Regions from separate parts of the Homo sapiens genome. Here region 1 is linked to region 2. Evidence: fine-mapped expression QTL. A gene starts in region 2. The other region holds a variant in brackets. All regions are shown on one strand. Distances are between the middles of the regions.

Region 1 (2,913 bases), 62 kb before region 2:
AAGGACAGAAAGGGAGACAGGGAAGGAAAGGTTAAGGGAGAGAGAAAGAGAGAAGTAAATGTGGCCAATGTTAAATGGTGAATCTTGATGAAAGGAGTATAGAGGTTTATTTTACTATTCTGTTGACTTTTCTATAGGTTTGAACTTTTTAAAATAAATAAAATTGAGCATTGCAATGATCTTTTCAGGCCAAGTACTAATTTCTAAAATGAAGAATAGTGGTTTCAAATGAAGTCATTTGAACCTACAGCCAAGTAGCTATGAGTACTAATTGTTTAAATATAATTATCTTAAAACTTGGGCCGGTTGCAGTGGCTCACCCCTGTAATCCCAGCAATTTAGGAGGCTCAGGCAGGTGGATCACTTGAGGCCAGGAGTTCAAGACCAGCTTGGCCAACATGGTGAAACCTCATCTCTACTAAAAATACGAAAATAAGCCGGACATGGTGGCGTGCACCCGTAATCCCAGCTACCTGGGAGGCTGAGGCATAAGAATCACTTGAACCCGAGAGGTAGAAGTTGCAGTAAGCCAAGATCACACCACTGCACTCCAGCCTGGGCAACAGAGCAAGACTCTGTCTCAAAAATATAATATAATATAATATAATATAATATAATATAATATAATATAACATAATATAATATAATATAATGTAATAATTTTTAAACTATAAAACAGAAATTAGAGGAGAAATTGGAGATAGTCAGTATAGGGAACACTTTCAAGGAATTTTTTGTATAAAGAAGAGAGAAATGTGCAGTAGCTGGAAGGAAAAACGAGGTCAATAAATAGTTACTTTAAGATGTGAGAAATAACAACATGCTTGTATGGTGATGGGAAAGATCCAGTAGGAAAGAGAAAATTGATAATACAGTGGTGGTAGAAAGCAATGTCCTTGAGTACATGACACAGGGAGTTCATCTAGTAGTCACAGAACATAACATACAGTACAAGAGAACAAAGGCAGGTCAGTAGGTCAATGAGATAAGACTTATGGGCAGCTCCTCTGATCACTTCATTTATCAAATTTATTTGAAGTTAGATGCTCTACTGATGGAGGAGTGGGAGGAGTGCTGAAAGTTGGAAAGACATCAGAATGTAGGAATTGGTCAAGGTAGGATGGATGCAGACGAGAGAGTAAATGGGCTAGGAAAATACTATATAATTGCCAGACAACGTTAAGGGCCACTTGAGATTTGTAATCACAAATATAAAATAAGAACAGCTAGCAATATTGTGATGTTTTTCTCCTGCTACATTAACATATGTGAATACAAGCCTGATGTGGGCAAAGTTTTAGGTTTACAAGTCTTTGAATTTATAAATCTAGTTTTTGATTTATGAAGCTTCGGATTTTTATAAGCAAGTATATTAAAGTGAGGGAGGATCATGGATTTTAAGGTATATAAAATGCAGTGATTATAATGATTGACCCCAGACTTTTCACTGGATAAAAAGAATTAGGACATGAAGGTGGTAGGGATGA[C/T]GAAAAGATGGTAGGACTAATAGATTTTATGTATTGGAATGGTTGGCATTATTTTCGGGTCTTAGAGGGAGTAAGCTGGGAAAATTGTAGGGGGCAATTAGAAAGTTTGATGCTTGAAATTGATACTTAGAAATTAGGAAAGTGTTGCAGTCACTGATAACATAAAGATATTTGACCTTAGATGGGAGTAGGTAGCTGAGGTCAGTAGAGCACTGGGTAATTCAAGGAGAGAAGGTCAAGGAATGGAGAAGGTAGGCTGTTAGAAGAAACATCTATGTGGATATTGAAATCACCAAGTATTATGTTTAGAATAGTACTAGAGAAGATATTGAGCCAGCAGGTAAAATCATCAAGAAATGACAGTGAGTGACATGGGATCAGGAGATGACTGCTACAAGGAGAGGTAGTGGGTGTTAAAATTTGACCGCATGAGATTCTAAGCTGAATGTTGTTAGGCAGAAGGGAGATAGGGAGATCTGGAAGTGGCAAGGTGGGGGGCAAGGTAGGGTGATACAGAAGTGGCAAGTGGTAGGATGATCTGGAAGGAGCAGGGAAGATAATTTCTTACTTCTAGGCCCAGTGGGATTAAAGGCTAAGGAAAAATCACAGCTACATTTTGAGAAGAATAATGGAAATAATCTCCTTAGGGAGAACCAGTGTTCGGTTTAAACAAAGACAGCAAATTTTCAGAAAAGAGGCTGCAAACATAGGGAATTTTGCTAATGACTGACCACAGGGCATAATACAAAGGCTTCAGGAGTTAAGGAAAGATAGAAATAGCGTAAAAAAAATCTACAGAACAACATGGGATTTACTCTCTGAGTGAAAGGAGATGGTCGGGGAGTTCTGAACTTTTGGAAACTGGCATAAACCACGACCTTAATGTTGATGGTCACATAGTGATGGTAAGGCTATAAGTTGGGGGTGAAGGATTTGGATCGTGTCACAAATATACTGAATTCTGGGGCTCTCGCTTAGCTAAAACTGATGTTTTCCTTTAAGCCCAGGGCCACATAGAGACTGTGTTTGACCTGTGCCAATGCAGATATGGAGACCAGAGACAAGGGCATTTGCTGTCTGGTGTGTTTCTTTCCATCTGTCCTGGATATTATCCATAAATGGAGGAATCAAGTTTCTGGCTTTGTACGCTTTTTGAAAACAAATCCATTCCTGAAGCCCTTGCTTCTCAGATGATCAGAATATTGGGATGATAGTTGTGCTGCTGATGCTGCTAGCTCTCACATGGGGCAGTGGCCTGAGAAAACCAAAGGGCGATAAGCATGACTAAAATTTAGCTCTGAGCTGAAGAATATTCATGTTTTCCTGTGGCTAGGATGGGTACTCTTGAAATATGGAAAGTTCAGTTAGAACCTCCCAAATGAATTTTTTTTTTAAGTTTAAAAATTCGCTACTTTTTATCACCAAG
Region 2 (2,913 bases):
TCTGGTAGGAGGAGGCTTCCTCATAATCCAGCCCCCCAATTACTCGCACTTCCCCGGTACTGGCATCTATGCTGAAGAGCTGCCTCTCCCGGTCCGACGTGTAGCTGCTCAAGGAGTACCTGAGCTCACCATTGGAGCCCTCATCCGGGTCTGAGGCATTCAGCTTCACCACCAATGTGCCTGGGGGTGAGTCCTCCCGTAGCTGGACGCGATAAGTGGACTGGTCAAAGGCAGGAGAGTTGTCGTTAGTGTCCAGGACACGCACAGAGATCTGTGCCGTACCCGAGCGGGCTGGGATGCCCCCATCCACGGCTGTGAGAACCAGGTGGTGCAAGGCTGCCTGCTCCCGGTCTAGGCCCTTACGCAGCACCAGCTCAAGCACTTTACTGTTCTCCTGCAGGGGCTTAAGGTCCAGCTCGAAGTGCTCGCTGGGGCTGAGCTCGTAGGTCTGTACTGAGTTGGCGCCCACGTCGGGGTCCTGCGCACTCTCTATGTGAAAGCGCGCTCCAGGCGCCACCGATTCGCTTACCTGAAGCTGGTAGTTGGGCCGCGGGAAACGCGGTGAGTTGTCGTTGATGTCCAATATTTCCACCTCAACGGCGCTCACCGCCACGGGGTTGTGCGCCAGCACTTCCAAGCTGAGCAGGCAGCGAGGCCGCTGCTCACACAGCGCCTCCCGATCAATGCGCTCGTTGACGAAGAGCGCTCCACTCGTCAGGTCCAGCTCCAGGTAGCGCGGACTGGGCGCACCCAGATGGTTGATGCGCAAGCAACCCGGCCCCAAGCGCCGCAGCTCAAGCCCCAGCGCGCGAGCCACGTTGCCCACGAGCGCGCCGGGTGCCTGCTCCTCTGGCACAGAGTATCGCAGCTGGGAGGCCGCAGGGCCAGGTAGCAGCAGCAGCAACAGCAGCAGGAGAGGCAGTAGCAGCAGCCAGGGCATGGGCCGCCGGAGCCGTGGATGCTCTGTCGCCGCAGGTCTGGTGCCCGCCTGCTCCATAGCCACTGGCCGCGGCGGAGGCAGCCGGGCAGGGCCGGAGGCGGCAGCTTCCCCAGCCGTGCCCCACGCCCGGGCCCCGCCTCCGCTCGTGCCACCCTGCGCCTGCTCCCCCACCGCTCACGCTCTAGAAAGCGCCTGGGGCCGCTCCCTCCGTAGGCCCTCCCAAGGGCTCCTGGCCCCACCGTCCTCGCTGACTCCCCATATTCCAGCTCCTCCGCTCGCCTCCGAGTCGCTCAACCCGGCTCGGCTTCCTGCTGCTGCTGCCGCTACAGCTCCAGGGGGAGGGAAAAGGAAACAGAAGGGAAGACAGAGGGGGAGGGGGAAAGGGAGCGGTAGGAGGGCTCAGCAAGTCCTGCTCTGATTCCGCGCCGAAGTGGCGGACAGCGAACCCGGACTGCTCAGCCTCTCCAGCCCCATCTCCTTCACCCTGGACCTGCCGGATCCCAGCGGACCGCAGGAACACGGCCACTCCCTTTCTCCCTACCCCCACTGTCCAGTTCATCCAGTCTCCACCGTCTCTCCCCTGCTTAACGGGTCTTTAAGGAGATTAGTCTGGGAAAAGCAGTCAAGCCCCTAGAAGTCTGGCTATCAGCTCCCCAGGAAAAGATCTCCAAGCGCAATTCAGGAAAATAAACTGAGGGGCCTTAGCTAAGTATGGGCACCCAGGCGGCGGATCTAACATTAAAAGGAAACAACGCAGGGGGAGGCGCTCTGGGGTTACTGGCGATGGGAACTATTCACCTGACTCCCACATCTTCCCTGGACACTCTTAAGTACTGCAGAAAGTGCTCAACTCCTAGGGCAAAAGGAGGGGGATGGCAAATGCTGCCCTCTTTCCGGGAGCAAGCCTAAAACCAGCATCCTGGGATCCAAGACTCAATTCTGCTCTCGGCCAAGTGGCCCTTATTTTCAGTGTGTGCCTTGGCAAATAACCAATATTTAAATGTTTAAAATGCTCTGTTTAAAAAAATAGTCTCCATGAAGCTGTAGGCAAATCTATTATTTGACCCATTTTGGCGACAATGGGGAAAATCTGGTAAAATTTTTAAAGAGATTCTTCTCTCAAGCTTTTTCTAATCTTGCTTCAAATCTTTTACATTTATCACCCAAGACATTTTCTTTCAAGAGTAATTTAAAATTTTTTCTTTAATGGATGACAATGTCTTCAAGAGTCTGCAAAACCATTAAATCAAGAGCGTTACTGTTGATCTCCTAAGCCAGGCTGGAATTTGGATTCCATTAATGCTTTGCAGTTAAAAAAAAAAAAAAATCTGCTGTCATTAAGCAAAATGTGGGAGTCTGGGATTTATCTTACAATAACCAGCAATTTCAATGACTGCAGCTTATCTTCCTTAAATATAAGACTCCTTAGACTTCTGTTCTTCTGTGTCCCCAAGTTTCCTCTTGTACTGCTATAGAGGCAACACAGAGACAACAAATTCACTTCAGTAAAAGAGAAGGTAGAAGGATCAGAGGAAATCTTTCCATGCTGTGTCATTGCCTCTGCTGCTCAGTTCTGAATATTCACTCTTCCCAGGTTCTCACATTTCTTCCACAGGAATTTGAAATCTATTGCCTCATGTGCAAAAAAAGCACTCACTAAAACGTCCTTTCTCTTCATCTCCCAGTATTCTGTCATCTGTAGATCTTCCTCTATGGGTCATTTTCTAGCTATGGACTGGAACAAAGTCAGAGTGAGACCTGACATTTGGCATGCTTCCCTCCTAGAGCGGACAGTTAAAGGAGCCAAGGTTGTGATCCTGACACCCAGAATTCAAAGGCCTGAACTAGCACATCCCTTCGTTCCACCAACCAAGCACACTCACTATCAATGCTCCACTACCTAGCCAGTGTTATTCCAGAGAAGCGCCCAGCCTCCTATCACTGCTGCTTCTTATTTGTCCTCTTTGTTTCCT

The links. PIP is the estimated chance that this variant, and not a neighbour inherited with it, causes the effect.
Region 1: its variant is the best candidate, but not a certain one, in a credible set for the expression of PCDHAC2 in lung (TOPMed, PIP 0.65).

What each region holds. Positions count from the first base shown.
Region 1 is chr5:141,027,163-141,030,075 of GRCh38, reverse strand. No RefSeq gene overlaps it. Among named protein-coding and RNA genes, the nearest start is that of PCDHB1, 23 kb to the left of the region's middle. The variant C/T (reference allele first, on the strand shown) is at 1,488.
Region 2 is chr5:140,964,851-140,967,763 of GRCh38, reverse strand. It overlaps PCDHAC2 (protocadherin alpha subfamily C, 2), which reads right to left and starts at 1,288. Exons shown (of 4, transcript NM_018899.6): 1 at 1-1,288. The coding sequence starts at 997. All of the region lies in intron 1 of PCDHA1 (protocadherin alpha 1), which reads right to left. The region is part of intron 1 of PCDHA2 (protocadherin alpha 2); the gene reads right to left. All of the region lies in intron 1 of PCDHA3 (protocadherin alpha 3), which reads right to left. It also overlaps PCDHA4, PCDHA5, PCDHA6, PCDHA7, PCDHA8 and PCDHA9, and 6 more genes.